Linked DNA regions of Homo sapiens: region 1 is reported to be linked to region 2. Evidence: microRNA targets listed by miRTarBase, many of them from high-throughput screens and not tested one by one. Region 2 holds a microRNA gene; the other region holds the end of a gene's coding sequence.
What was found. Region 2 holds the annotated microRNA hsa-miR-1208 (UCACUGUUCAGACAGGCGGA, at 4,761-4,780, shown strand). A microRNA usually pairs through its seed, bases 2 to 8, with sites in the 3' UTR of a target mRNA and lowers its output. Matches are read on the target gene's strand: a 7mer-m8 pairs with bases 2 to 8, a 7mer-A1 pairs with bases 2 to 7 and ends in A, and an 8mer does both.

Region 1 (11,312 bases), not on the chromosome of region 2:
TTTTTTTTTTTTTTTTTTTTTTTGAGACAGAGTCTCGCTCTGTTACCCAGGCTGGAAGGCAGTGGTGCGATCTCAGCTCACTGCAAACTCCGCCTCCCGGGTTCAAGTTATTCTGCTGCCTCAGCTTCCCCAGTAGCTGGGATTGCAGGCATGCACCACCACACCCGACTAATTTTTGTATTTTTAGTAGAGACGGGGTTTCACCATGTTGGCCAGGCTGGTCTTGAACTCCTGACCTCAGGTGATCCACCTGTCTCGGCCTCCCAAAGTGCTGGGATTACAGGCGTGAGCCACTGCGCCCAGCCACCCAGCTAATTTTTGTATTTTTATAGAGATAGGGTTTCTCCGTGTTGGCCAGACTGGCCTCGAAATCCTGACCTCAGGTGATACGCCTGCCTCGGCCTCCCAAAGTGCCTGGGATTAAAGGTGTGAGCCACCGTGCCTGGCCTATTAATAATAATTTTAAATTAAATACTATTTAAATAAAAACATAAATTTATTGTCCAAGGCGTGCTGAATCCTTAAGTCCTGAGAAGAGGCATTCAGAGCCAGGGAAGACACATTCCTTTGCCTGCACTTTTTGCCCCCTTTCTCACCTATGAAACATCTACCTCCGGTCTGGCCTGGTGGCTCACACTTATAGCCTCAGCACTTTGGGAGGCCAAGGCAGGAGAATCACTTGAGCTCAGAAGTTTGAGACCAGTCTGGGCAACATAGCGAGACCTTGTCTCTACTAAAAATAAAAAATTTAGCTGGGCATGGTAGTGTGTGCCTGTGGTCCCAGATACTCAGGAGACTGAGGCAGGAGGATCTTTTGAGCCGAGGAGGTCAAGGCTGCAGTGAAGTATGATCATGCCACTGCACTTCAGCCTGGGCAACAGAGCGAGATCCTGTCTAAAAACAAAACAAACAGACAAAATACAAATAAAACATCTACTTCGAATAAACACGCTTCAAAACCCAGCTCCAGTGTTCCCCGCTCTGGGCAGCCTCCTCTGAGCCCCAGCCTCTGGGCCTCCCTTTATCATGTCTTGAGCGTGCTGAGGATTCACTGTCAGTGTTAGGGGCCAGTCTGATTCCTCTGTCCCCAGCGCCCAGAAGAGACCTCAGCAGAGTTTTGGTGACTTAATGAAGTTTGGGACAGGGGTGTCATGCCTGGAGTTACTAGCAAGACAGAGACATACGGGCAGTTGCCTGACGCCCAGCTTAGTGTTCCACCTGCCTGCCGTCTGAGGAAGCCTCTCCGCCCCTCCAGCTGAGTGTGTCTATTTTGGGCATGCTCAGTACAGAAGTAATTCTGGGGGGATTCATTTGGGTAAGCTTCTCGGGCTTCTAATCCATCTGGGCTATGGGGGCCAAACTGAAAAGGCCCTTCCAGAAAACCTGCTCTCATCTCCCCATTGTACAGATGAAGACATGGAGACAAGTAGAGGCAGGAACTTGGCCAAGGTCACACGGCCAACTAGTCCTTGTCACCTTTTGGCGTCCCCTGCCCAGGGCCCCAACATCATCCCAGCAGACATCATTTTCATCGTAAAGGAGAAGCTACACCCTCGCTTCCGCAGGGAGAATGACAACCTCTTCTTCGTGAACCCCATCCCTCTTGGCAAGGTGAGTGGGCAAAGTGCAGGAGCAGCGGGGAGGAGATCAGAGTGAGCCCTGCCTGCCCCGGCCTAGACTTGGCCTCCCCTCCCACAACCACCTGCCATCAGTCACTAAGCCCTGTGGATTCCACCCTCTAAATCACCATCCACTTGGTCCCGTCTGCTCATCTGCACCGCCTGGATCTGTACACCAGATCTGCGCAGCAGGCCTTCCTCCCCACTTCTCATCTCCTCCAGGCTCTTCTCCTTAGGGATCCTGCCACACACTCATCAGACCCTGCCACACTCCTGTCTAAACATCTTTGTGCCACTGGAGGCCCTCTGCGATCTGCTCCCTGCTTACTCCTTCCCCTGCACTCCCGCCCCTTCGCCGCATAGCACCCTGCCTGTGTGGCGCATTGTCACACCTCCGTTCTCATTTCTGCTGGGCCCTCTCCCTGGAATGCTGTCTATTCACCTGACCCTATAGGGTCCTCATCAATAGCTACCACCACTGCTACCACTTCCTGCCCCACTCCTGAATGGTTTAGGGGCCTCTCCTTGGCTCCCACAAACGCTTTTATTCTGTCTCCATCATTACATTTATACAACATCCATCTTACCTGCCAGATCCATCCATCTTTCCTGCCAGTGCAGAAAATTGCATGGGTCATTCACCTATTAGTTATTGAACAGCCTCGTCTCCCTTGTGCCCAACTCACAGTCTGGCACTGGACAGGTTCCTAAGGTGCCTTCTAAATAGGAGAGCCATGGTGACCCTCCTCAGCCCCACCTTTGGCCCTGACCCTCCCTAGGCTCTCACCTGCTGCACTGTGGAGGTGAGGACCCTAGATGACCGTCTGCTCAACATCCCCATCAATGACATCATCCAGTGAGTCCATCTGCCTTGGGCCCCAGTAGCCAAGAGAAGGGCTAGCCTGGGATTTAGGTGGTAGTGTGACAGGTCTGCCCAGTAGAGTTGTACAGGCTGCCCCCAGCAGAAGGGTTCCCTGCTGAGGGGATAGAGAGGACCAAAACTGAACCCACACTGGCCAAGCTGTGGGCTGCAATCACCTGGCAAAAGGAACATCTTTTTCTAATCCACACAAAGCCACTGCAGAGGCTAGAGGCCCCCATTGTTGGGCAACCCTGTAGCCTCCATGCCCTGCAAACTTCTCATTAGAGTTCTGAGTTGCATATCCTAAGTCCTTTTCCAAGAAAGGCCCTCTGCCCGTGAGGAGGTTTGCCTGGCAGCCCAGCACCCTCGCCCTCACCCCAGGGTTTGCTCACCTTTACTTCCCGTTTCCCATGTCTTAAACAAAGTTTCTGGAATCCTCCATCAGAGACTCAGTGTAAACAGGTTTTCAGGGAGCTCCTTTCCCAACCAGTTCTGGCTAAGAACCACTCCAGGTGAAGACTGCAGTGACTGTCCCCTTCCTGGGGTTATGTGAGTAGGGGTTATATGACAGGGACCTGCTGAGGTGCTGCTCTGGGATGCCCTCTATGCTCCTTTCTTTCATCCTATTTCAGCCCCAAATACTTCAAGAAGGTGCCAGGGGAGGGGATGCCATTGCCGGAGGACCCCACTAAGAAAGGGGATCTCTTCATCTTCTTCGACATCCAGTTCCCCACCCGCCTCACACCCCAGAAGAAGCAGATGCTGCGCCAGGCATTGCTGACATGACTGTGGTGGGCTGGAGCAGGGGTGAGAGGAGGCTAGCCGGGCCTCACCCCACCCCTACCCGCCACAGCCTCAGGGTGTGCAGGGGAGCCTGCTGCACAGATATGATACAAGGGTGGGATGGCGCAGGGCTTAAACTGACATAATAAAGATCTATTTCCTGTCCTCCAGCTACACCCACGAGAGTACATTGGAGAGGAGCTTCATATTAGCCCTTCTTGTGGGGCACAGGGAAGAAAGAGGCCTAAGGAGCTGAGTGCCTGAGTCCCTGTCCTGGCTTTGTGGGAAAGGGCAGGTAAGGGTTCAGATCCTCTGTGCTTCCACTTTGATAGAGTGGGGCAGGGCTGTGTGGCCTCTGAGGGTCTCTAGCTCTGCTCTGGCTTTTCATGACAGAAGAGACAATCTCTGGAGCATGATATGGTCACGTTAGAGACAGGAAAACTAAAGCACAAAAGAAAACATTCATTGCAGGTCACTCAGGCCTCAGTGGCAAAGCTGTCATCAGAACCTTGAAGGTGGCTGGGTGCGGTGGCTCATGCCTGGACTTTGGGAGGCCAAGGTGGGCGGATCACTTGAGGTCAGGAGTTCGAGACCAGCATGGCCAACATAGTGAAACCTCGTCTCTACTAAATACAAAAATTAGCCAGGTGTGATGGTGGGCACCTGTAATCCCAGCTACTCCAAAGGTTGAGGCAGGAGAATTGCTTGAACCTGGGAGGCAGAGTTACAGTGAGCTGAGATTGCACCACTGCACTCCAGCCTGGGCGAAAGTGAAATTCCATCTCAAAAAAACTAGAAAGGCCGGGTGTGGTGGCTTATGCTTGTAATCCCAGCACTTTGGGAGGCCGAGGCAGGTGGATCACCTGAGGTCAGGAGTTCAAGACTAGCCTGGCCAACATGGTGAAAACCCGTTTCTACTAAAAATACAAAAATTAGCTGGGCATGGTGGCGAGGGCCTGTAATCCCAGCTACTCGGCAGGCTGAGGCAGGCGAATCACTTGAATCCAGGAGGTGGAGGTTGCAGTGAGCCGAGACTGCGCCACTGCACTCCAGCCTGGGTGACAGAGCAAGACTCTGTCTCAAACAAAAAACAAAAAAAACCCCCAAAAACCTTGAAGGTCACTTCCCACAGACTCGCCCTGCGTAGAGAAGCAGCATAAAGAACACATGTGCACTGGAAACAGCTTTGGTTCTACCTCTCTGGCCTCAATCCCCTGGTCTGTGATAGGGTCCTGGGCAGGGTGATCTGGGAGGCAGGAAACCTGAGTTCTGACCCCAGCCCTGCCACTTTCTCCTGGGACCAGTCACCACACCTGTCTTGTCAGTAAAGCAGAGCCCATAACCCCCCTCACGGGCATGTTGTGAGGACAGAGAACATTGATGTGAAAGTGCTTGGTGAACTCACTGCTTAGATTCAGGAAGGGGTAACAGCACTGCTGCCCTCAAGGCCTGGAGTTCCAGCATCCAGGTCCAACTGGGCCTGCGTAGACCACACTTGCCTCCTCATAGTCAACACGTGTGTTATGCTCCCCTTCCATGCCAGGGAGGTTCCCTTCTAGAGTCTGAGCTTGGGTGAGGATAGATCCAGGCTTACGGGGAGTAGGTAGCCAATTCCATGGAATGCCTTCAGAGGTGCCAGAAAAGGCCCCATGTTCTCCAGATTGCTTGGGACTCCACCATTCAAATCACATCAGCTTAAGGTTTTTTTTTTAAAACGGGGGTTCAGTAGCACTTTTGTCATTAAAAAAATCACCATGGGCTGGGCGCGGTGGCTCATGCCTGTAATCCCAGCACTTTGGGAGGCCGAGGCGGGTGGATCACAAGGTCAGGAGTTCAAGACCAGCCTGGGCAACATGGTGAAACTTTGTCTCTACTAAAAATACAAAAATTAGCCGGGCATGGTGGCATGCACTTGTAATCCCAGCTACTTGGCAGGCTGAGGCAGGAGAATCACTTGAACCCAGGAGGCAGAGGTTGCAGTGAGCTGAGATCTTGCCACTGCACTCCAGCCTGCACGACAGAAGAGACGCCATCTTAAAATTAAAAAAAAAATCACCATGAAGTCAGCTACCCAAAGACCTTGAGGTGAAGACTCTGGGACCAGGGCTCCAGGAAGCATTTCAGCATAGTAGTTAAAAGCATGTGGGCTTTGGAGTCAGACACACCTGTTCTGGATCCCCAGTGTGCTACTAGCCAGCTGTGTGCCTTTGGGCAAATCACTTCACCTCTCTGAACCCGTTTCTTAAAGCTTACAGCCCCTACCTTGCAGGCCTTTCATGGAAACCAGATGGTGAGGCATGAAATGCTCTGGGGCAGGACTCAGGTGGAGTGGGATGGTGAGAGCTGCCCTGTTCTGAGGGCAAGCCCTGAATTGGAGTGCAGAGGCAGGGCTGTGAAATTCTTCAACTCTAGGTCTCCTGTAGGGCAGCAGGAAAGCCTACTCCTTATCTTGAAGGAAGCCTGGGTCTTGGGCCTGAAAGTCCCTTAGGAGATTCCTATTACCTTAGTGATCTTCAGTGTTACCTTGAATTAGGCAAAGCAGGGCTTATCATCTGCCCACTTAATAGGCATTAAAGGGTTGGGAACCAAAGAGAAGTGATCTACCTGTGATCAGAATGAATGAGACCCACTGGTATGTTTTCCAGTGGTTCCTACCACTGTTCCCAGCTCATTGTCCTAAGGCCACACCCAGAACCACAGTGAAGTTGGGTAGCCTCGTGTCTATTAAGGCTGCTGAATGAACCAGCTGACTTGCTCATGCCCACCCAGCCTGTTTAGCTTTGACACACACCTACCAAACTGCCCCTACTTCTTCCCGTCCAGAGCAGAGCTAACAAACAGCCTGCCTCACAGAATTAGTGTAAGAAGGTACATAAAGTAGTGGCCAGGTCCTCTGTATATGCCACCCCCTGCAGCCTGGCTGAGCTGCCTGTCACCTTTACCCTGGTTTGCCGACTTATGGCACTCAACCCTGTCCCTCCCGAGGACTATGGGGCCTCAGCTCAATTTGTCAAAAACTAAGAAGCTGAAGAATCCTGGGCCCTCGTTCCTTCTCCAAAAACCAATCTAACACCCTGGCCCTCAACCCAAGCACTGAAGGGTCTAGCCTCCAGCTCTGACCATTGGGCTTACGAGGCGGCGAAGCAGCAGTGGCTTCAGCGGCTTGAGGCTGAGGGAAGAGGGAGGGTGGTCGTGTTCTCAGGGCCTAGCTCCACAGCTGCCAAACAGGCTTCCCCAAGGACCCCAGCACTGGTCTCTGGGGGAGTCCACAAGGGGAAGGAGGACTGGGTCCCGGTCCCAGTTCAGTAGTGGACTTTCTGGGTGTTCTTGCCTGCATCACCTGTGTCAGGCCTCAGTTTCTTCAGACACCTACAAACTGGGTCTGAGTGACATAATTCTAAGGGCCCAGCCCTACAGGAGATGCCTTGGGATTCCAGGACCTCACAGTCTCCACTCCTTGAAATTGTAGTACCCCTGCCCACCTGCCTCTGAGTGCAGGTGATAAGAACAGGGACAGAGAAGCGGAGACCCCTGTGCAGCCAAGGCCCTGGCTTCTTGCGGCCTCCTTGGATGCCTAGCTGGGGCAGGGGCAGGTGGAGGGGGGTTGTGGTGGTGAGACTCCAAATGGAAAATATCCTGGCCAGGCACAGTGGCTCATGCCTGTAATCCCAGCACTTTGGGAGGCTGAGGTAGGTGGATCACTTGAGGTCAGGAGTTTGAGACCAGCCTGGCCAACATGGCAAAACCCCGTTTCTACCAAAAACACAAAAATTAGCCAGGTATGATGGTGTATGCCTGTAATCCCAGCTACTTGGGAGGCTGAGGCAGGAGAATCGCCTGAACCTGGGAGAGGTTGCAGTGAGCCAAGATTGCACCACTGCACTCCAGCCTGGGTGACAGCAAGTGAGACTCTGTCTCAAAACAACAAAAAACACAAATGGAAAGTATCCTCAGGCAGAGACCAGATGTTTGCCCTGCAGCCTCCACCCACCCTCTGTGGAGTCAGGGCCTGCTCCACCCAGTTCAGTAACATTTCCTCTGTGGGTGTGGCTGTGGCTGTGGAGGGTGGAAGGAGGCTGACTGACTTGTTCTCACAAGGTCTGGGACTTTGGGGGAGGTGGGTCTTCCTTCCATTTGTAAAATGGAATAAAATAAAGTCAACAGCATCTAAGAGTCTCATGTTCCTCTGGAACTGCAGGAGATGCAGGGCACACAGGAGCACTCTTGTTGTGCAGATAAACAGGCCTGCGGCTGGGGTGGGGGGTTGGGATGGCAGGCACTAGAGTACCAGATTCTGAGTAAGAGCTCAAGTGGCCCGGCAAAGGAAGGGGAGGCACTGCTGTCTCTCAGGTGGCTCCTGCACTCCCCATGTTAGTACAGGGCCTGGGTCTAGAGAGAAATGGACCAGATGACCTACACGGGCTTCAGATTGGATGCTGGAGGTGGAAGGTGGATCACACCCATTTTCAAAGTCAGGTGGTTCCTCCCCTGCCCACCAGGTACCAAAAAGGCCATTGGACCAAGACCTCTGGTAAGAGCTACAAGAGAGGGAGGAGACGCCAAGGTTGAGCTTGCTTTATGGATGACAAGTGGGCTAGGCTGGGCTGTCGGGGGCAGGACGAAGATTCTGGCTGAACTTTCCAAGGGACGGGACGCTTGGGATCCTGGCTGGTACGAGGCCTCCCACACTGTCAAATGTCAACTCCACCAGCACTGAGACAATGAGTAGATGAGAATGTAGAAAGAGGGAAGGTGGTAGGTAAAGGAGCGGAAGGAAGAGGTGGGGAAAGAGGGAAGGAGAGAAGGGAAGGAGGGAAGAGAAAGAAGGAAGAAAAGGAAAGCATGGCCCGGCTAGAGACAAAGCCAGAGGTGATCAGGTCAGCAGCAGGAGAGGCTCAGAAGGGAGCCTCTCGGGAAGTGCAGGCAGCCATGAGGGCTCGTTTCAGCTGCTCATAGGTGACGAACATCACCACGTTCCAGGAACCCAAGCGGAGAAAGGAGGGCATGAACCTAGAGGAGAAAAATCACAGGTCATGGGGGCACCTCCACCTCCCACTTCCCTCACTGGGCCTGGTATTCAATCCAACCCAGTTGCTCTGTCCCAAAGGAGGCTGGGAGGACTCAATGAACTGAGCTCACAGCTGCTTGGCTATAAGCATGAATTCCCTTTGAGTCTCCATTTAACACCTAATAAACAGTGATGGTAGCAATTCTGGGAGGAAGGAATTAAGGGGATAGGTGAATGCTGGTGAAATGCCAGGACCAGGATCAGAAATAGTCACACTTGGCTGCTACTCACTTCCAGGTGGTTCTCTCCCACCCACAATAGACATGCATAGCCAAGAGGCCTGAACTGGGTGGGGAGGACCAGAGGCTCACCCTTTGTAGAAGGCTCGGGGCCCCTCCTTCTGGAGCATGGTAAGGGCACAGTGGCCAGCGCTACTGTACTGGCCCAGGGCAGAGTTCATGTATCTCGTCTTGACCACGTCTACAGGGGAGGCGATGACAGTGGTGCAGAAGCCTGCCCCAAAGGCAGAAGTGAAGTGGCAAGGGAGGTCATCTGCCAAGGAGGAGCAGGCAAGGCAGTCAAGATCTTCACCCATCATTCCAGAAGGCAGGAGAATTACTTAAGTAGCTACGAGTTTTCATGATTTTAAAGAGACAGAGAGGCTGGGCACAATGTCTCATGCCTGTAATCCAGGACTTCTTTTGGAGGCCGAGGTGGGTGGATCACTTGAGCCCAGGAGTTCAAGACCAGACTGGGTAACATGGCAAAAACCCTGTCTCTACAAAATACAAAAATTAGCCAGGCACAGTGTGCATGCCTGTAGTCAGCCCCAGCTACTCAGGAGGCTGAGGTGGGAGGATTGCTTGAGTCAGGGAGGTCGAGGCTGCAATGAGCCATTAATCACCCCACTGCACTCCAGCCTGGGCAACCGAGCAAGACCCTGTCTCAAAAAACAAACAAGAGGATGGGGCGCAGAGGCTCACACCTGTAATCCCAGCACATTGGGAGGCCAAGGTGGGCAGATCACTTGAGGCCAGGAGTTCGAGACCAGCCTGGCTAACATGGTGAAACTCCATCTCTACTAAAAATACAAAAATTAGCCAGTGTGCTGGTGCACACCTGTCATCCCAGCTACTCGGGAGGCTGAGGCACAAGAATCGCTTGAACCCAGGAGGAGAAGGTTGCAGTGAGCTGAGATTACACGGGTAACAGAGTGAGACTCTATCTCAAAAAAAACAAAAAACAAACAAACAAAAAAACAAAAACAGACAGGGACTCCAGCTGAGACATCTTCTGAGGACCTGAAAGAGTCATTTTGCCAATCTAGCCTCAGTTCCTCAATGTGCAAAGTGGGAGCTTCATCCCAATTGGCTTCAATATGGCAAGTAAGAGATATCTTACTCTCCCTGCAAAGGGCAAATAGGATGAAAAGATGTGGTCTTCTGGTGTCAGCTAGACCCCCGCACCTGCTCCTGGCATGGGGGAAGGGTGAGACCCAGCACCGTCTACCTCATGACTCACCTGTCATGAGGTTGGCTTTCAGGAGGGCATCCTTGATGAGGTCATAGGTCACCAGCTCAGCACAGTTGACAATGGCATTACGAGCAACATTGGGAGAGGTCCCTGTAGGAGGAGGAAGATCCTGGGTGAGACCAGAGTATCGGGGAGGAGGAAAAGGGGAAGGGAAAACAACTGGTACACACCTTTCCAGAGGCCCCGGAACCCTTCCTCTCGGGCAATGGTCTTGTAGGCATTGACGGTGCTTTGGTATCTCCGACCACCTCCAGCCCGGGCCTGAGCTTGGAATCGGACCTTTACCACATCCGTGGGCTGGGCCACAGCCACAGCCAGGGCACCTGTGGTGCTGCCTGCTAGGAGGCGGCTCCCAATGCTGGCATCTGTGGGCGAGCCATGGGGTCAGTGGCCAGCGGGCTTGCACTCATTTTCTACCTCATCTCTCCTCACCAAAACCACCCTGTCACTGTCATCTCCTGCTTTTGGGAATAGAATCCAGAAGCTTTTGGCCTTCTACAAGCTCTTGCTGTAAGAACTCCTCACATCAAACAAAATATCCCTATGAATATCTACTTCTTGCTAGGGACATAGCAAGGGCTAAGACCAAAATGAAACTTGGTGCTTTCTTTCATAAAACATTTTCATTTACCTGCTCAACAGCCCTGAGAAATCACAATCATTTCCATCTGACAAATGTGAAAACCAAGGCTCAGAGAGAAGTGGCTTTCTGAGGACTGGGATTCCTAAGACTTGGGATCTCAGGTCAGCTTTACTTCTTCCTGCCATGTGATCTGGGAAAGACAACCTTTTGTCTGGGGCTCTGTTTCGTCATGTGTAAAATGGAGGGTTGGCATGGCATACTAAGGAGGTGAAAGGGAAGAACGCTGGCCTTAGAGACGAGTGTCCTGGCTCTCTACTGTGTGTTTTCTGGCTCTCTACTGTGTGCCCCTGGCCAAGTCCCCACTCTACCCACTGCCTTCCCACCTCAGTCTCTTCTTCTATAACACTGGGATGATACTACCTACTCCCAAGGTGGTGTTGAAGACTGTGATGGGATGACGCCCTGCTCAGAGCCTGGTATAGCCCAGGTGCTTAGGAACTATGTGGAGGACCAGGGCCCCTTCCAGTTCTCTGTTCCCCTGATCTTCCTAGGGATCGTGGGGCCTAAAAAACTATATGGCTGAATGAACTAAGATCAATCATCACTGAGAAAAAAGGGCCAAGGGGCCTACACCCTTGCTCCATACTCACGCTCAGAGCCCTTGGTGTAGAACTGTTTGACAGAATCATACAGGCCGATGCGGACAGAGGCAAAGCTCATTTGGCGCTGCAGGCCGGCAACCAGCCCATTGTAGAGGCTTCGGGGGCCCTCAGTACGCACCATGGTCAGAATGGTGCCCATCACACCGCGGTACTGGGCGCTGGCTGTAGCGCGCACTGGCCCCTGACTTTCTCCTTGGATCTGCAAGGCCAAGACAGGGTAGCTACAGGGATAAGCATGTTGCCCTTCCCACCTCCAGTCATC
Region 2 (11,312 bases):
TCTTTTAAAATGAAACTTGGCAGAGGCCGCTGTAGCTTTTTTACACACCTCCTCGTCAATATTTCTCCTTCCTCTCCAGAGGTGACTGTGGGCCTTCACTATCTCCCTCTTTTCTCTACCCCAGTTATCTTGCATTCAACTAAATCCTCCACATTTGAAAGAGCCAGGTCAAGGCCCCTGTCCTCCAGCTCATGATGACCTTTCCTGCATGACATTATTGCATTCGATTTTGGAGAGCTTATTGTGATTTATTATTTATCATCCTAGTCATTCATTCAACCTGTGCTGAACAGACCCTCCTTTGATGCAGCACTCTTCTACTTGCTGGGGTTGCAAAAATGAGTCCCACATGGTCTCTGCTTCCAAGAGCTCACAGAACATGGCATGTGGGTGAACATTATCTTGCAGTGAGAAGGAAAGCTTGTTGGGAGAAGGACTTGTCTTTAGAAGTCTGCCACAGCTTTTACACAGGAATTTGATCTCACATAAACACTTGTGGCCTTGTGATCATAAGACTGGAAATGGTGTGAGAATCAGAAGCAAGGTAGAGGTGTCTGCCCCATGTCAGGCCTTATGTAAGGCTCTGGAAGTATATTATTTCATTTAATGTTCCACAAACCAGCAAGATGAGTGTTATACCTTTCTTTAACAGATGTAAAGTCAAGGGTTGGAGGTCAGAAATGCAGTTCACATTTGAACTGAAGCTCTTTAATGTCAATGCCTGTATTGATCTGTCTCCCTCTTTAGGCCATAATCAACTCAAGATAGACTGAACTTAATTCATCTCTGTTTCCCAGGCCCAGCACTGTCTCTGAGCAGATATTTGATGTGTGAACATATATGCTGCAGTAGATCTCTGGAATTAAAAGGAAACAAGAACACATGGGCCTTGCCCCCAAGGAGCTTACCATTTAGGTGGGCGGGCAGACTTTGGTAACAGGTGCAAGAAAGCAGTGCCTAAATGCCTGTCACACAGCAAGGGATTTCTACTCTAAATGGGAGGGGAGATGACATTCTCTTTGCTGATCCAGGCTTTTAATTTAATCAGGCCAAATCACTTGGGGATACAGAATTTTCTCAGGACCCCTGTTTTACTGCAGTTCAGGTTGCCTCTTTTTCCCCAAACTCTGACATTCCTGGCTCTATCCCTGTCTTCTCTATCTGCCCCATTGCTCTGTCACTCTTCAGACTTTGGGCTCAAACTTGCCACACAGATTCTCTGCTCTCTTCTTTCCCTTTGGTGTCTCTTGCTGTCTGGATGAGAATCTACTGCTCCAACCTCAGGGGAGCAACCATCAGCTGGACCAAACTCCACTTCACCACCTCCAACTCAAGAAAATGTGGTATTTGTACATGCACGCACATGCACATACACACACACACACATATATATATATATATATATACCCTTTATATAATAATAATGATATATAATCCCTTTTCCAAGAACCCATGTCTTCTTCAAAACAGAGTCTGGGGCAGGGGCTCTTCTGGGTGGCATAGACCTCCTTGGCAGATTGGTGAAGCCTATGATCTCTTCTCAGAATAATGACTTTAAATGAATTAAATAAAGATACATGGGATTTCAAAGGAAACTAATTATAGCAAAAAACTGTTATGGAACAGTACACGCACATGCACACACACACAAATGATATTAGTTATCCATTGCTGAGCAACAAAAAGTGTATTAGAGCAACAGGCATTTATTATCTCCCAGTCTCTGCAGGTCAGGGGCCTGGGCGTGGCTTAATTGGGTCCTTTTGCTTGAGATCTCTCATGAGGCTGCAATTCAGGTGTCTGCCAGAGCTGTAGTCATCTTGAGATGGCCTAGGGATGAGCCTGCTTCCAAGCTCACTCACAGGCTTGTGGGCAGAATTTGGTTTCTCACAAGATGTCTAACTGAGGGCCTCATTTCCTCACTGATTCTTGGCCAGAAGCTGCCCTCAGTTTCTTGCTATGTGGGCCTCTCTGTGGACAGCTCACAACGTGGCCTCTGGCTCTGTCAGAGTGAGGAGGTAAGAGGGAAAGTGAGTGTGAGCAAGACCAAAGTCATAATCTTTTATAATCTCCTCGTGGATGTGACACCTCCTCATCTTTGCCCTATTCTATCCATGAGAAGCAAGTCACTAGGTTCAGCTCACTCTCAAGGGAGAGCTGAAAATGAGTTGTGAAAGCCAGAAGGTGGAGTCATTGAAGGTCATCTTAGAAGCCTGAGTACCACAAGTGCTCTATATGCTATTTGAAGGCATCAAAGAAGATCTAGCAGAAGTTCAGTAACTAATGTAACTTTGAAATAGACACGAGGGCAATATTTCATGATCTCTGCCACAGCTGACATATGATATGAAATTATCTGTCATTTCTGTGGATGACAAAAATCACAGCTATTGCTAATAAACTGTGTGTTGTCTACATACACAAGTGATAGAAATACTAAATTTCAATTACAGGTGAGTGCAAATCAAGCTGTATTTTTTCCTTTTTCTTCCCAGGCCTCCAGGTGTCTGCATTCTGATCCTTGAAGAGTTCATGGACCTAAGTTAAGAACCTCTCCTCAAGAGACTGAATGCAGGCAGAGATGGCTTATTGGTTCATCACAGGTTATGTGAACTACCCACTGTAAGATCCCCAGATTACTTGGGGCTAAAAGGTGTCCCAAGAGGGTTTACAACATTGCCAGAAATTAGTGGGGTCACTTCTGTCCAGATTCTCGTTTTCAGCCTTGTGTGTCTAAAAAATATATTTTTTATTCTGTATTCTAAGGTGAGCAGGGTTTAAGATTAGACTCACATTAACTAGATTTGTAAGAGGCAGAAGTATAATGCATATTTTATTCACTCAATCACTCATATAGTCAATCATTCATATAGTCTTCCATTCCTTCGGAGCACACTGTTAGGCACACACTGATTGACCACTACTGTGTGCCAGGCACAAAATACATGCTAGGATCAGTGGTCTCTGAATAGTAGTTGAAGACATAATCCCGGATCTCTGGGAACTGATGGTGGTTTACAGTGGTCCTCAGCTTCCCTTTTCTCCCATGACACATGCATGACCATGATATTTACTCTAGGGAAATCCATTTTACTTCCACCCATTCCTGCATTAGCTCACTTCCATATAGAAATTTTAATCTCAGAAGAGCTTTGGAGGAAGCTTCTATCCTAGTCTGCTCTTCCCCATGAAAGAATGGCTTTCAGAGTCACAGGTGTTCTCTCAGCTTCTACCTCTTCTGTAAGGTCAGTCCCCTGGGACAGCCCTTTCCCTGAGTCAGGGTGATAGGAGGGGTGGGAAAGAGAAGGAGGGAGGAAACGAAAGAGAGAAGCTTGAAGTTTTCTAGCTGTAACTGAGTAAGTCATCTCTATCAGAAGAGGCAGGAGTGGGAAACCTGTTTTTGACTCATTTCTAAGCCATGTGTTCTAATTCATATTTACCAGCATGGGAAAACAGTTCATCCCTACCTAACTCTCAGGTCTGTGGCTCATTTGAGGGGGAAAAGTATAATTATCACCAAACATTTTACACTTTCCTATGGCCATGTCCAGGTTCTCCATGTCCTTACTACAACTCCACAATTTTTTTTCCCCAATGCAAGAATGGCATTATTAAGTCCATAATTCACTTTAATGGATCTTTATTCAACAAATCTGTATTAAGCACTGGGCTAGACGCTAAGGATTGAAGCAGGAATAACATCAAGGAGGAAGTGCTGCTCTCCTGGAGCTTACATTCTGGAGGAGAGACACTGGTTACAAACAAGTAAACCAAGATATGGATGAGATTCTGAAAAGTTCTTTAGAAAAAATAGGCCACAGGCTGGAGAGAGAATAACCAGATGACATTTATGTTGACAAGGTGGCCAGGGAAGTCTTCACTGAGAAGAAGGCATTTGACTTGAGACCTGTAGGACAAGAAGCTGGGCAGGTGAAGGCTGGGCAGAGAACATTCCAAGCAGAGAAAACTGCATGAGGCTTGAGTTTCAGCTGAAGCTTGGCATGTCTGGAGAAAGAAAAAGTTTGCATATTTTTACTTAATTGTGTTCAAAGAAAAATACATGTGATAATCTTGGTTTGATGTACAAGTGGTATGAATGCACAGATTACTCCTAAAAGAATTTTTCTTTATGTGTATATATGTTACTAATTTTACCTATCACACTTTGGGAAAACTAATCACTTTTAGGCCCATACTAGAGAACTTATGGATAATTCTGGAGACTTGAATATCTACCAGCCTCAGTAACTGTCTTTCTAGAACAGCACTGGATAAGTCCTGCCTTAGTCTTCCTTTTATCCTAGACTACAAATATTCTCTTCATGTTGATCCACTTTATCTTCAGTTTGACATACCTTAGACTTTTAAACAATCCATTCACATAGCAAGCTTCATGCAATGTCATCCAAAAAGATTTCTAATTTCTATAAAGTTTTGGCCCTTCTTCCTGTCTTTGGTGAGATTCCTTCACCCCTAAGGACCTCTGCAATGTTATAAATATTCACCATTTATTATATATATATTTTTTCTCTAGCTGTTTCCAAGTTCCTACTCTGGGAGCAAGCCGTACCCAGCACTTCCTCTTCTCCCTCCCTGTGTCCCACTGCCACTGAGTGAAGCCACACTCGGTCCGACTGGCGGATCTTTCTACCCTCCCTTCCCTCTAAATATCCTTTGGCCTCAAATGCTAATTGAAGAGCTCAGAAAGAGGACATTAAGAAGGGGGCTTTCTGGTGGGCAACAATGAATCACCGGCAGAATCACTGTTCAGACAGGCGGAGACGGGTCTTTCTCGCCCTCTGATGAGTCACCACTGTGGTGGGGGGGAGTGGACAGTCAGCCAGACAGATAATGTGTCAGTCTCTCTCCTCAGCCTGACCCTGGACATCAAAATAGACTGCGGTTCCCTCCTTCTGGGCCCATTGCTGGCATTTGACCTAATGCTATAGAAATTTAAACCAACAAGGAGGGTAGTAAAGTTAAGCTTTCTAGGCCATTGAGCTGAAGTTTTAATATTGTAACAGAGATTCTTAAGACAGGCTTGTCACCCTGGCCAGTGACTACCCAAGTAATGTCTTGCTGACCCAGGCCATCCTCTCCACCGATATAAATGCTCTGTGCTTCATCTCAATGTTCTCATCGTTGAGGTCTCGTTTCATTTGACAGTGAAAAATGCAGACCAGATGAAAACCACTTTCTACAAGGCAAACAATAACAACAGCTTCTGTGAATTAAACATCTACTGTGCCAGGCACTTGGCAAACATCATCTCATTTAATTCTCACACCTTCTCAAGTAGGTATGGCTCACTCTACGATACAGACCATGAAACTGAGGCTCAGAAAGTTGCAGCCATTTCCCCCACGTGTTCACGGGTAGGAAAGGGTAAAACTGACTATAGAATAAGGTGATTATAGAACTTATCATCCAAAACAGGGCACTTTTGAAAGTAAAAGGGAGAACTAGTAATAATTTCACAGCCACAGATGCAAAGGGGAAATGTCCCAGCAAGCCAGAATATAAAAATGCCTGAGTTTTGAACCAGTCTTTTTGGCTCTACAGCCCAGCCCATTCACCCAATTGGTTGTCAGGAAGGTAACAGGAGAAATTTGTAATCAGCTCCCCTCATTCTCTTATGATTTTTTTGCTTGCTGTTTCCTTTCCCTCTCTTTTCATTCTGAGATAGGATGAAGCCCAAACCTCTGTGCTTTCAAGCAGCCCTGTGGACGATTCTGATGTGCTGCCAGGCATGAGTACTCCTGACGATATGATCTTTGAGGACAGGCATTTGTTCTTATTCATCATTGTATCCTAATAAGTAACATATGGGCATGCAGTAAGTGCTTAATAAATCTTCATTCAATGAATGAGTATGTTATTGAATGAATGCAATGATGTGCAGAAGCAAGCAGGGAGGAGTATCACTGTGTGTCTGAGGAATATAAATGAGTTTGGGGCATCCATATAAAGAGAAATGAGAAAGAGGAAACAGTGGACACATCTGCCAGGCTGAGCTTCAATTTCATCATTAAGGCAGAGCCACCAGTCTCTGAGTAGGAAAGTGACACAGTCTGATTTGCATTTTGGAAAGAACATTTGTGTGGTTGTGTTCCAGGTTAAGCCTATGAGAAATTAGACACTGAAGGTATTTAAAACATGTTTTCAAAAGGGCTACTGAGTGCCTAGCATAATATAACCTTTTACATATTTGAACAATTTCCAAGCTGGGGCTAGCACCACCCCTGCTGGGAGTCAGAATCTGGACACTCTCTGGACCGTAATTGCTCACCTTGTTGGGACACCTAAGAGCCACTCTTTCGGGGGAATGTTTTCTGTCTGTTTGTTTTCTGGCTTCTTCCCCAATATTAGCGGTTCTACCATGGGGTGGCTGGGTGGGTGGAAGGGACCCACGACATTCAGGAAAGTGAGGAGCAGTTTCTGTGATTATAGCAGACCCATTCACTGGAATTTTTCCTGACATCTCTCCATGACCTTTATGCCTCCAAGGGCCTGGACACAATGCAGCAGCTCTCCAGCTGGGACAGGGCACATGAGGGGGTATCATACATGAGTGTTCCCCCAAGTGGGGCTGTGGCCACTGCAGAGCAGCCCAGGGGACCTTGCTGTGCACAGCCCTATGTCCTGGGGTTTCCCGCAAAGCTTTGCCCTGTCTGGTGAGACGGCTGCCAGACAGTATGAGATGAAAGACACCGTTCACACTTAATGGTGACTGGAATGTGCGCCATGTAAACCAGATGATGTGGAGACCAATTTATAACCACTTCACAGTTCAATGATGAATGGTGGGTCCCTTGTACTGACTCTTTAACTAGCTCCCTTCAAGGAACAGGCGGCTTCCGAGATTGTCTTAAAGCAGTGTGGGATGTCCAGGCCCTGCCCAGGTCCTATCTTTTCTTCCAGCACCATCCACCTCCCTGAAATCTTCTCATAGCACCTGGTCCTCACCTCGTTCTTCTCGTTGAATTCTGTTTCCTCCTTGGTGTCTACCTTGCTACATTCATTCCACAGGCATCTCTGTTCTATTAGGCAGTCCTTTCTGTAAGCATTTCCCATGGATATTATAACCTAACCTTCAAGCTTTGTCAACACTTATCAGCAGAATTCTGCTTGTATCTTGGGCCAGAATGAGTCACAGCACATCCCTGGATGCAGAGAAGGGTAGGAACTCTGATACTTGGCTTCTCAGTTTCCATACAAGAGGTAGCAATGGAGAAGAGTGTTGGGAGAAGATTTTAGTAGGGAATCAACAGTGTTAACTCCACACCTACCATTGTCATTCTATTTTACAGATTAAAAAACGAAGTCACATGGAAGATAAATAACATGCTCAACATCACCCAGCCAGAAGTGGTGGAGACATGGCCAACATCACAGGGGACAACTCCTGAGCCTGTGCTAGGAACAGCCAGTCTTCCTGAATTCATGATAAAGTAAGAGGTAGAACCGTGGCCAATTGTCTTTGGGAGAAAGTGGGATCAAGGACAACTCCAGGATTCTGCCTGAGATGGGACACACTAGAGCATTACTTGGGAATGTAAATAATAATATCAAATTATTGAATGATTTCCATGGGCTACTCTCTTCATATACCAGTTCTAATTCTGATAAGCTTGTATCATTATCTTCTTTTTAAAAGGCATGAAAACAGAGGCTCACAGAGATCATATTATTTTCCCCAAGTTGCAATGATGGTAAACACAGATGACAGCTGGACATCAACTAGGTCTGGGTGGCTTCCAACTCCAGTGACTCAATGCTGCTCCACACGGCCTTCTTACAAGGAAAAATGAGAACAGGCCGCGGGCCGGCTTCTGTAAATCGCGTGTTGTTGGAATTCCTGTCCTTCCTTGACCCAGATTTGTAAACAGAGGCTGTGGAAGCCAAGGTACACATGGGCAGATGCAAACGAGCCGTCTGCTGAGGAGAAAGTCGAATGTGCTCGGGGTGGGTGCGCGTCTGCCTGAAGCACGTGTCCCTGAGGCCTCCTGCTGTCTCCCCAGCCGGCTGACGGGCCCGGTGGTCTGCAGATGGCCACGAAGTGTCTCCGGGCTGTCCAGCTGCAGCCTGGGCGGGCTGGCGGTTTTTTTTTTTTGTGGGGGGAGTGATTCTGAGGGTGCTGGGTGGCCGCTGACAGAGCTTCCTTCTGCTACTTTTAGGCTTGTTGCTGAGCCTTTTTAAAGGGAAGGGGTGGAAATAAGCAAAGATATTTGCTGTGACCTGGAACTGAAATGCCTCACTTTAAAAACAGCTATCATTTACTCACTCATCCAAGAAATACAGGTTGAGCCCCTTCAGAACAACAGGTCCTGTCCTCAGTGCAGCGGATGCAGCAGGGATGCATACAGAGTACCTGTCCTCAGGGAACTTGCAGTTTATTGGATGGAGACAGACAACCCATAATGATTTGTATAAATGTCTAATATATGCTATAGAAAGAGAAGCAGCAAAGTAAAGGGGTGAAGGATGAAAAGGCCAGGGGATATTTTTCTGATGAAGTGACATTTGAGCAGATACCCAAACAAAGCAAAGCAGTGGGCCCAGCAGATATCTGAGGCCAGGATGGTCTCTGGCAAAGGGAACAGCGAATTCATAAGCCCTGAGCAAGGCGAGCCTTCAAGGGTGTAGGCCTTCTTCAGATGTTTAAAGAGCACCGTGCTTGGGGAGGGTCTGGAAGCCGCAGCCTGGGAACAAGTGAGAGAACTGAGGTGTTTAGGGCAGAAAAGGGAAGTCTTGTGAGTAGCAGGCAGCTTTCCTCATGTAAAGGGTTCAAATGTGGAAGAAGGATAAGACTTTTTATTACATAATGCCAGAAGTTGTAACCAAAGACCAGACCAGCTGATGGAAGTTGCTGGAGGCTGTTTGCAAAGGTATGTTGAATAATGCCCTAAGCATTGGCTCTAAAGAGAAGGAACCCGATATTAGTGTAGTAGGGCTGCCATAATAAAATATTATAGACTGGAGGCCTCACACAACAGAAATATTTTCCCACAGTTCTGGAAGCTGGAAGTCTGAGATAAAGGTGTTGGCAGTGTTGGTTTCTTCTGAGGCCTCTTTCCTTGGCTTGTGGGTTACCATCTTCTCTGTATGCCTTCACATGGTCCTTTGTAGGACCATCTGTGTCCTAATCTCCTCTTTTTTTTTTATTTTATTTTTTGAGTTGGAGACTCGCTCTGTTGCCCAGGCTGGAGTGCAATGGTGCAATCTCCACTCACTGCAACCTCCGCCTGCAGGGTTCAAGCAATTCTCTGGCCTCAGCCTCTGGAGTAGCTGGGGCTACAGGCATGAGCCACAATGCCTGGCTAATTTTTTGTATTTTTTTAGTAGAGATGGGGTTTCACCATGCTGGCCAGGCTGGTCTCGAACTCCTGACCTCATGATCCACCTTGCTCGACCTCCCAAAGTGTTGGGATTACAGGCTTGAGCCACCGCACCCGGCCCTAATCTCCTTTTCTTATAAGGACACCAGTCATATGGGATTAGAGCCCACTCACATGACCTCATTTTTACGTAGTTACCTCTTTAAAGGCCTTATCTCCAAACAGAGTCACATTCTGAAGTACTGGGGGTTAGGGCTTCAACATCTTAATTGTAAAGAGGGGACACAGTTTAGCTCATAACAAACTTTTCCTCACAATTTAAATTTATTGAAGAAGCTGAGTTGTTTGTTCTGCACTGAGTTATTCATTCTGTCTGGATTTCTCAGATTGCCTCTCTGTGGTTCACTGTTTTCCTGGTAAATGGTACTTAGATCCTTGATTGAATTTAAGTTTGATTTTCAGGCAAGAATACTACATCAGGTGGTGGTGTATACTTCCATCCAGAGGCAAATGATATCTTCTTGTCTCTCTGTAATACACAAAACAATTTTCAACCAGAAATGTAGATGAGTGAGGATTCTGACGTACCTAGAATATTTGGATGACTGCTGCTTGAATGGATGGCCTTGAGACACCTGAAGACCCTGATGTGCCTTCTGAATCATACCACGATTCAATTACATCCATCATTTAACAACAACAACAACTCTAGAAGGTACTTATTTTGTAGATGTCATTACATTCGTGTACGAGACTGGAGTCTGGAACAGAACCCCCGACTAACCTGTCATGCAGAAGGACAAACATAAACAGGCTTCGGGGTGTGAAGGAAATGTTCCAACAGCTGGGTTTGGCTCCTGACCCTGACCCGCCACATACTAGAATGTGATCCTAGCCAAGCGACCTAAAACTTTGAGTCCATATTCCTTATTGGTGAAATGTGTATTACACTTCTCTCTTCAAAATTTGCTTCTGGTGTCACCTCCCCCAGGTAACCTCCTCCTACTCTTCTCCCAGCCTTGCCTGACAGCTCATCCCTGGGATGTCCCTCTCACCGAATGCTCACCTCCAGCATGCACATAGCTTCCCTTTTGCTATTTATCCGTGTGTCTCCTCCTCAAACTAGGAGTTCCTTCGGGTTCAGTACTGTGTCCTCAAAATGGTTTTCAAGACAGTTGCTTGTTCATGGTAGCTGCTCAAACAATAATTTAATGACTAAAAGCGTTGCTCCCAAGTAGTGTTCTAAATCTAAAAATCCCAGGAAGCTTATTTTTATTTTTATTTTTATTTTTTGAGATGGAGTCTTGCTCTGTTACCAGGCTGGAGTGGAGTGGCACGATCTTGGCTCACTGTAACCTCCGCCTCCCGGATTCAAGCGATTCTCCTGCCTCAGCCTCCTGAGTAGCTGGAACTACGGGCGCATACCACCACCCCTGGCTAATTTTTTGTATTTTTAGTAGAGACGGGGTTTCACCGTGTTGGTCAAGATGTCTCGATCTCCTGACCTCGTGATCCGCCTGTCTTGGCCTTCCAAAGTGCTGGGATTACAGGCGTGAGCCACCGTGCCCGGCCAGCTCTTCAGCAATTACTGATATCCCAGGGCGCAACACTAGAGCTCTCCAGGTGATTCTAATATATAGCCAGAGTTGAGAACCACTGTGGTAGGGCAGTGGTTCTTAAAGTGTGGTCCTTAGACCAGTGCATTGGCATCTACCTGGGAATTTGTTAGAAGTGCAACTCTTGAGTCCCACTCCAGACCTACCCAATCAGAATTCTGGGTCTCGGGCTCAGCTACATCTGTTTAATAAGTCCTCCAGCTGATTCTGATGCAGGCTAATGTTTGAGAAACCTTGTTCTAGGGCAGGAACCAGCAATTATTTTTCTGTAAAGCGCCAGATAGTAAATATTTATGCTTTGTAAATCACTCGGTCTTTGTGACAACTACTGAAGTCCGCTGTTACAGCAGGAAAGCAG

Region 1: miRTarBase lists DNAJB13 as a target of hsa-miR-1208. The part of its 3' UTR that is shown has no 7-base or 8-base seed match.

The regions. Positions count from the first base shown.
Region 1 is chr11:73,966,848-73,978,159 of GRCh38, forward strand. It overlaps DNAJB13 (DnaJ heat shock protein family (Hsp40) member B13), which reads left to right. Exons shown (of 8, transcript NM_153614.4): 6 at 1,498-1,611; 7 at 2,399-2,475; 8 at 3,114-3,434. The coding sequence ends at 3,267. UCP2 (uncoupling protein 2) reads right to left here. Exons shown (of 8, transcript NM_003355.3): 4 at 11,039-11,249; 5 at 9,976-10,170; 6 at 9,794-9,895; 7 at 8,644-8,824; 8 at 7,825-8,274. The coding sequence ends at 8,160. Among named protein-coding and RNA genes, the nearest start is that of UCP2, 10 kb to the right of the region's middle. RefSeq lists enhancers at 3,439-3,598, 7,442-7,531.
Region 2 is chr8:128,145,367-128,156,678 of GRCh38, forward strand. MIR1208 (microRNA 1208) reads left to right here and starts at 4,750; the gene lies at 4,750-4,822. LOC124902020 (a long non-coding RNA gene) reads left to right here and starts at 5,558. Exons shown (of 5, transcript XR_007061107.1): 1 at 5,558-5,836; 2 at 7,311-7,451; 3 at 7,658-8,888; 4 at 9,801-10,053.